2 separate regions of the Homo sapiens genome follow, and region 1 is linked to region 2. The links come from fine-mapping of genetic effects on gene expression. A gene starts in region 2. The other region holds a variant in brackets. All regions are shown on one strand. Distances are between the middles of the regions. Region 1 overlaps PRKG1 (protein kinase cGMP-dependent 1). Region 2 holds the start of DKK1 (dickkopf Wnt signaling pathway inhibitor 1).

The links. PIP is the estimated chance that this variant, and not a neighbour inherited with it, causes the effect. A credible set is the group of variants that fine-mapping cannot tell apart.
Region 1: its variant is the best candidate, but not a certain one, in a credible set for the expression of DKK1 in sigmoid colon (GTEx, PIP 0.54).

The regions. Positions count from the first base shown.
Region 1 is chr10:52,280,346-52,284,746 of GRCh38, reverse strand. It overlaps PRKG1 (protein kinase cGMP-dependent 1), which reads right to left. Exons shown (of 18, transcript NM_006258.4): 13 at 3,817-3,958; 14 at 2,431-2,594. Among named protein-coding and RNA genes, the nearest start is that of PRKG1-AS1, 32 kb to the left of the region's middle. The variant T/C (reference allele first, on the strand shown) is at 1,951.
Region 2 is chr10:52,312,081-52,316,481 of GRCh38, reverse strand. DKK1 (dickkopf Wnt signaling pathway inhibitor 1) reads right to left here and starts at 2,201. Exons shown (of 4, transcript NM_012242.4): 1 at 1,805-2,201; 2 at 1,397-1,559; 3 at 47-187. The coding sequence starts at 2,047. PRKG1-AS1 (PRKG1 antisense RNA 1) reads left to right here and starts at 2,354. Exons shown (of 6, transcript NR_038277.1): 1 at 2,354-2,848; 2 at 2,997-3,084.

The DNA of each region.
Region 1 (4,401 bases), 32 kb after region 2:
AATTAGGTCTCTGCATGAACAGTCTTTGCTTTTTCAAGGTCCAGCCAGTCCTCTAAATGTCATTATTACTATCGAAGATCATTAGATATGACATTCAGGACCAAAATACTTTGGAGTCATGCTTGTGGTCCAAGCATCATTCCTAGTCACATGCCATACTTCATAGTGTTTGGCAGGTGTGTTTTGTGGAACTTTATTTGTAACTAAAGATCATCCTACTTGTTTTATTCTTGCCTTCTCCCACCCCCACCCCTGGCCACCGTCTCTTACCACCACCATCATCTCTTTGGGTAGAAAAGGAAAAGTAAAGATTTTTTTAATGCTGTTGTCTTTGACCAAAATTCTTTCTGTCTTGTTATTTCTTGAAATGAATATTAAGTTTAGGTATGTTTAATCATAATGTTTCGATATATATATTTATGGTAAAAAAATTAAGTTTGGTTTTGAAAATACAACATAAATTGTGACTTATAGTGCTTTATTTTTATTGCTGCTCTGCTATTCTGTAATTTCTATGTCCTTGAGGTTATTTAGAAAAATGCTTTTTAAATTTTCAAGTATTTAGACTTTTTATTTTAAATCTTTGTTATTAATTCCAAGTTTTATTATATTCCAGTCAGATATTGTAACCTGTGCAATTTCTACTTTAAAGGATTAAAGGTTTTTCTGTTATTAATTATTTCTTACAGTTTAGTATATGCCAGTTTTTAAGATTAAGGTTTTAATCATTTTCACCTTATTACTTAATGAATAAACAATGATTGTAGAGAAATGTCTAAACATTTAAGGAGAAATATAAGTTGTCATGTTTAATATTTTAGTCTAGTTATTATAGGTGAATATTTTACTTCCTCAAAAATAGTTAATATTTAGTTTTCTTCTATTTATTATATAATTGGTTCTTATAGCAATTCTAAGCACACTAGAAAGATTACCTTTTTATCTATCTCTCTGCCTATTTACCTATCTATCCATCCACACACATATGTTAAATTTAACCTTCTACTTTGTCCAAATTTTTCATATCTTTACAGGTCTACTTAATTGGTCATACTTTTAAAATAATTTACCTCCATCCACAAGATCAAAATTGAACAATCCACACTGAACAAAATTGGATTATGTCACACATAATTTATTTGAAGTCAATAGAGAAACTTTATGGGTAATAATGTAAAATACCCATAAATAAAAATAAAATCAAAACACAACTATTTCTGGCAATGACTGTCGTTGTTGTAGTAGTAGCAGCTGCTAACATTCATGGAATGCTTACTATGTGCGAAACACTCTTCTAAGTGTTTCATGTATGCACTGAATCCTCACAGAGTACCCTGTGCTCAAAGTCCTCAGTCTTCCTCTCATGTTCACTGTAGTGACTAAGTCCTCTTAAGTAATTCTTCACATCCTGCCTCACAATTACTCTTTTTTTCCATTGCCCTTGCCCTACTCTAGGCTCTCAGTGTCCTAGAACTAAATTACTGCAACAATCTTCAAACTAGCTTCCTATTCCTCTTCCAATTTGCTTATTACTGCCAACTTGTTTTTCCTTAAATACCACAACACACATCACTCAACCTTTGTCAGAAAATCTCAATGATTCCCTCTGTAGATGGAGTCCAAACACTCAAGTGCAGCAATCATGATCGTCAAAAGATGACTGTTCCTGTTTTTTTTACATGAACCTTCTCCATGTCTGTGACGATTATTGCCTTTCTCTTTAAGCCATGCCTATTTGCCTGGAATACCCTTTTCTTGCTCTCTATATCTAAGTCCTACTCTTCATTCAAGACACAGCTGCCTTATATTCATTCTTCAAAAGCCTCTTTACGAACCCATCCCTGTCCTGAAATCTGTAGGTCATAACACCCCTGTCACTCACTGTTTTAGCACATGTCATGGTAGTGTATTTGTTGTTCTTTTAATATGGGTCCTTGAGGATCTTAAAGT[T/C]TGTTTTATACCTTGTGGTGTCCCTAGTGCCTATTTGAGTTGATGATAATAACATTACAGGAAAGATGTACAAAGCAGTCACCTTTCATTTAGATATAACAGTTGCTAACAGGTCCTCTTACTTCTATAGAAAATTGACCCTAGATATTTTTATATGATTATCATCTCCCCTGTTTCATTGCTGGCTAAATGACTGGGCTAAGATAGCTCACAGAAGGACATTATATCCTTCCACATTCACATATGTAAAAAAGAAGTAGCAATAATGAGACCAAAAGTTAGTGTTCAGGTGGTTGCCCTAGCCTGGACTATTTTATACCTTACATTATGAATTCCTGGTCATCTGTATAACTAATTAAACTGTGGTACCAAGATATGGTGAAAAGTACTTTAAGATGGTCTAATCCAAGTGACAAAAGCAGGAGTGTGTAGCTGCATGCTGGTCTATTTTTATCAGCAGTTCCCTATCAATATCCATACCTGCCAGTCAGGAGTTCATACATTAGGATTCCCAGTGACCAGTAGTCGGCTGAAATGTCATGGCCTTTGTTCAGGATGATCTCTGGGGCTACATACTCTGGAGTCCCACAAAAAGTCCATGTTTTCTTTCCAAATCCTATTTTCTTTGCAAAGCCAAAATCAACCTTACAAAGAGAGAAAAACAAGATACTTAAGCTCCTTATGATTAAGTTTTAAAGTAATAAGTTATTTTGAAGCACACTGATGATGATAATAATTTAAAAACATGTATGTTTTTATAGTTCTGTCTTCCAAAAAGAATAGTCTATATTGCAAAGACAGTCTCCCTGATGCACCTCAGTTTTAATGGCAAAAGTTGACACCTGAGTATAGCATAAAATTCACATCATTAAAAATAAAGGTAAATCTTCCTTTCCGAATATAGTTTTCATTTTTTCTTCTTTTATGCTAATGGAGGTTGGAGTGTAAACACAGAATCTCTTCTGTACCTAAAAATTGTTAACGACCAGTTGGGCCTACTTAACATCTTTCCCAGAATATACATGATTTCTGCTGGATTTAATGAAGGCGACAATTCATTTAGTATTAATTATTTGAAAAGCTATTTTATGTTTGCAGGAAGTGAGTAAGATAGTTTTGGGACCAATGACTCTGCCCTTAGTAAGCATAAACAGAAATAAAATTATAATGTATTCTTCATTTTTCTGGAACTCTTTTGAAGGAAGAGTGTCGACTGCAGAAAATATATTTTTTCTAAAACGATTTGGTTGAAACTACAAATAAAAAACTGCCACTGATTTGATTTCTCTAAAAACCACATGCTGAATAACAATTCTGAAAACTTTAAAAATGGAATCAAGCTGTTAACAGATCCAACAAAAGTTGTGCATTTGTAAATAAAAGAACTTCTCTTCTATGGTAAATCTTTACAGCTTTTGACCATTATTATTATTACTATTACATAACCTGGCTAGCATTGCCTGTAAAGCACATTTTTTTCCATTAGCATTATTCTTAAATCTAAAATATTAAAATGATTTATGGTTTTCCATAATATAAAAACCCATTGCTTATGAATGGCAAAAAGCTGACTGGAGAAAAGGACTTCTGGGCATGTAAACACATGCCAGCAAGTGTGTTTTCTCATGCTTATAAAAGCATCTTTTGCCAGAGTATTGTTAATTCAAACTTAGCCAACTTAATTTTTCATAACTGATGCATCATTTGAAAGAACATTCAGTTGAAAAGTGTAATGCTAAAATCTGCTTTTAAGAAAGTTACAACATTGAAAAGGAAAACTCAGATTTCATATTAGCAAATGAACACAGTTTTATAAACAAATATTTTTAATCTGCAGGGCAGAAAGCACGTATGAAATGCACTGACCAGTTTGGCATAACCTCGGTGATCTAGGATGAGATTTTCTGGCTTGAGGTCCCTGTAAATGATTCCTTTGGAATGCAGATAGGCAAAAGCTTCTACCACACATGCTGTGTAAAATCTGGTTGTAGAATCTTCAAACGAACCTCTGAGGTGCAGAAATGGAATGAAAATTGTATAAAAAATTAATTTCTGTAATATGGCTTTATTTTTTTTTTCTCATTTCACTATATTCCTTTGCCAAAATTTAACCCAGAGATCACTGTCCTGCTAGCTAAATGTTACATGATTGCCATTACATTGGGTTTTCTGAAGCATTCAAGGATCAAGTTAAGGAATTCTCTGTCTTTATGAATGGAATAGTTAAATCTCACTTACTGAAAGGGCTGAAAGAATAGTTCAACACAACACATTTCATGTACTTAGTGTCTTCCTCTCAACAGCCCACTACAATCGAAAAAGGCACAGACTTACAGAAGTAGGCAGGAGAGAAAAATAATCCTATTTTAGAGCTTGCCTACCAAGCATTTGTTTTTTAAAGGAGAAGTTTATGGGTTTATTCATATTTATTCTTAGAGGGCTTGTTTTTTA
Region 2 (4,401 bases):
CAAAAGACACTTCTGATGTGCTAAGAATGAGTCTTAACATCCTTACCTTTGGTGTGATACATTTTTGAAGACAAGGTGGTTCTTCTGGAATACCCATCCAAGGTGCTATGATCATTACCAAAGCTTTCAGTGATGGTTTCCTCAATTTCTCCTCGGAAATGATTTTGATCAGAAGACACACATATTCCTAAGGAAGCAGGAAATAGTGATTAACTTCAGGGTTGTAATGCATTACTGCTAACAGCTGTGACAGTGGCAGTCTGTTATGCCAGCATCAACTTGAGATACTTCATTGCAGTGACATCATTTTAAACACAAGCCAAACTTCCTCTTTACTGTTAATGCAAAACTCTCCAGATGGACAGAAGCACCAATGTGTATACTGTATACAGTCAGTCATAGGTAATATCCCCAGTATAGCCATTTAAAATACTTTCCCACCAACTGTGGTAGGGGCAAGTGAGATTTCTGCCCATTTTAATATTACCTTTGGGGTAAGAAAAAGAAACTCAGTCACTTTAAAAATGTTCTTAAAAATAACTTCTCTGCCCCTGGTGCTATATGGGTCCTACCAGACTAAGTTAAGCAAATGCAATTCCAGCTGCCTGGAACATTGCAATCTCACCGGCCAGTTACTTTACTGTGTAATTTCTATATTACAGAGATTTACTTAGTTCATCCTGGAGTACTGCTGGGTCCTAAGGAGGGTCGTCGCCCTGTTAGCTTATTTCTGGAGACCTCTTTAGCTGTCTAAATCCACCTTTTGAAAAATTAAAAGTTAGTGGATCTGTGGTTGGGGGGAGGAGTACTTATATTAAGGCAGCAGAGGGTAGAGGGAGGGGGAAGGATGGAGAAGTCAAGTTGTGAGGGTACCAAGATCTCTCTTAAAAATGGCCAATGCAGATAAATCAGTCCTCTGGCTGACAACAGTTTCAGCAAAAATCAGAAGGCGAGGCCAGTCTGGCAAAACTGTGAGAATCACAATAAGAAAAATGAAAAGGACAGCTGAACGCCAAAGCTGGTTTCTTTGATATCTGTATGATCCCATCGTCCTCCTCATCATCCCCCTTCTCAATTGACCTCAAGGTTCTCCCCAGACAAATTTTTATGGAAGAGTCCACTACGAGGTGAACCGTTGTATTGAATCATTGAGGGACACGGAGGAAGATAAGGACCTCAGAGACCTCCCAACTTCTCTCTTCTTCCCGATTAAACACTTGCAATGAAGATACTTCAGCGGAATCCTGCATGCTGAACACCCATTTGCAGGTGGCGCCGCAGTGTTCTCAGGGCGGAGATTTCTCCCCCCACCCCCCCCAACCCCCCGCCCCCGCCCAATTCATAGACGCTCAAAGGCTGGACAGTTTTAGTGTGAAAGGGAGCTTTCAGGACTCACCATTTTTGCAGTAATTCCCGGGGCAGCACATAGCGTGACGCATGCAGCGTTTTCGGCGCTTCCTGCAGGCGAGACAGATTTGCACGCCTGCGTCCCCTCCGCGGGTGGGACTAGCGCAGTACTCATCAGTGCCGCACTCCTCGTCCTCTGCGCACGGGTACGGCTGTGGGAAGGGTTCGGGGAGAGGGTGAGGCACCCAGACGTCCAGGTACCCGCCCTCTTGGACCCGGGCGCTGATCACAGTCCTTATCTGTCCACCTCTCCAAAACCTGTTACTGCCCACTGCTCCCAAATGCAGGGTTACCAAATGCTCCCTGAACCGCACACATTCAGCACGTTCTACTCCCTCGTCTCCAGATAGGACCCTTTCAAGGTCAGAGCATCCTCTGAGTGCCCGACCCCTCTCACCTGGTAGTTGTCAATGGTCTGGTACTTATTCCCGCCCGGGTACAGGATTCCCGGCGCGGCGCTGACTGCAGAGCCTGGGTGCCCCGCAGCGCCGCCCAGCGGTGGGGGCAGGTTCTTGATAGCGTTGGAATTGAGAACCGAGTTCAAGGTGGCGCTCACTCCCAGCAGAGGGTGGCCGCCGAGAGCCGCCGCTACCATCGCGACAAAGACCCGGGTAGCTCCCGCTGCGCCCAGAGCCATCATCTCAGAAGGACTCAAGAGGGAGAAAGAAAGAGAAAATGACCGTCACTTTGCAAGCCTGGGTCCCCACGAAACCGTGCCGGTTCGGCTGCAGAGTCAGGGTCCGGGAGCCCCCTGCGGTCCCAGAGTCCTGACTGCAGGGAGCACAGAGCTCTGCGCCGCCACCGCCACCGCGGCTGCCTTTATACCGCGGGCCCGGAGCATTCCGGCCCCTTGGGAGGGAGACAACAAAGCCGGGATGGGATTTCAAAGCGCTGGGAGGGGCTGGGAGGGGGTGTGTTTGTGTACATGAAGGGGGGCCTTTGACACTCTTCACCCCGCCCCTCCCTTGCTTAGTCGCTCGGCTGGCCCGGCTCACCTTCGGGGTGAAGGCTACCAGCGAGCGTTATAGCAGACGACTTTAATAAATGCAGGCGGCAGCAGGAACTCTGGGAACTTGGGTGCCCTTGCCTGGCAGTAAGGGTTGAATTATCCGGATCTGAAATACTTTACAGAGCCGAGGGGTGATAGGCTCTGCAAAAGCACTTTTTGCCCCTCTCCTTTATGCCAATACTCGCTGACTGTGCACACAAGTCATATTCAGTATTAAATACAAACCGGTCTGTAATTCAATGGCTCTAGCAAGACGCCTCTGAGAGGGCCAGGTGGCGGGTGCAAGTTGCTCATTAACCCTTTAGAGTCGCAGTTTGCAGATCTGAGTTAGATCCCCGGCTTTGAGGTCCTTCAGTTGCCCTCCTCCCCCACCTCCCCCCGCCACTGCGAGAAAAATGTGCAAAGAGAAGGAAATTTGCACATCAAACGAGGGTAAGAAGGAAGAAGAGCTAATTCTCTTTTGATGGGAAGTTTAGAGAGGGAGGCGAGAGACTGGCGTTTAGAAATTAGATCAGGGGTGGAGGGAAGAGGGAAATGACCATCCGATAATCAAACCATTTAATGTTGTTCTTTGAATCAGGGCAATCGCGGCGGTAGATGAACTTGATTAGGCAGACGCGTGAGATCAAAGTGGCCGGGACCAAAGCGGACAGGGTCCAACGTGCCAGGTCAGTCGCCTTTCCCCGGTTCTCCCTTCTCAGTGGTGGGCTAATGTGGAGAAATAAGAAACCCTTAGGGCTTAGCGCCTGACTTCCTCATTAGTATATCACATCGCAACGCTTCCGAATGCAGGGTTTGCTCCCAAGTCTTACCTTGCACGGGACCACGCAATACCCTTTCTAGGGAGAAAAGAAACAACCTTGAGGAGAAGAAGAGCTGAAAGTGAATTAGAAAGTGAATTTGACGTCATTGAAATTGGTGTGTGGATATAATAAAGTAAGGCTGGTGTATAAGAATGATGTCATGCTTATAAATGGGAAATGATCTATTTAATTCAACAAAAACTTATTGGAAGCCTAGAGCCCTGGCATTGGGCTGCCCTCTGGGTTGTTACCTTATTTTTATTTTTTAAATTTTTTGGTGAGATGGGTGGTGGGGGGAGGGGCACAGTGAATACAAATATTTATGAGACACAGCTCTCATTTTAAATAATAAAGTTCTCTTTATTCTAATTACAGTAATAATAAAAGATGTAGTAACAATAAAATTATAGCAATAAATATAAAAGCATACATAATTCTTTTAAAAACAGGTTGATATTATAAGTGTCAGAAAATAAGCAACTGTTTTGTGAGTTTGGAAAAGGGAGAGATGATTGAATAATCACTATTGAATTAAAAAAGAGTAAGATATATTTATTTTGTCTTCCTCTAAGCTGTATAGATTTAGGCTGTCTATAATGACTCCACATGCTGACCTACTATAGTCAGAACTGGGGCCACCACCAAGTAAAGCCAGTGACAATCTTAAAGTAAAAAAATCCTAAAGTTTACTGGGAGAAGGAGTAATTAAAACACAATTTACTATGGTCTGTGTTCTAGTTCCTTCAGTTTCAAAGGTAATATTAAGAAGATCATCTAAACAATTCTTGAATGGTACCCTAGTTATATTAGTGTCCTTCCCATCCCAAATTCCATCTGTCCAGGAAATTATCCTGTCAGGAATCAATGCGTTAAGCACCTTCAGTGTACTAGGAAATCTGCAAGCTGTGTTAAGTTTGAATGACTTTGAAACGTAGAGAAAAATCCGCCTGCCAATCAGAAGGTTGAAAATGTTTCTTTTTAGTCCTATTAACCTGTTTAAATATTTTGAATCTAGAAATATATTTGTGCCACACTAAAGGCCAATCTCTTGCCTTTTTTTCTGAAGAGATAGTATATGATTAATACATTTAATGAACTTGGTTCATTAAAAGCTTGGCTTCACAAAAAAAATCCATTGCCTGGGGCAAAAGAAGAGAAAGTGGAACAATTTAATCAACAAAA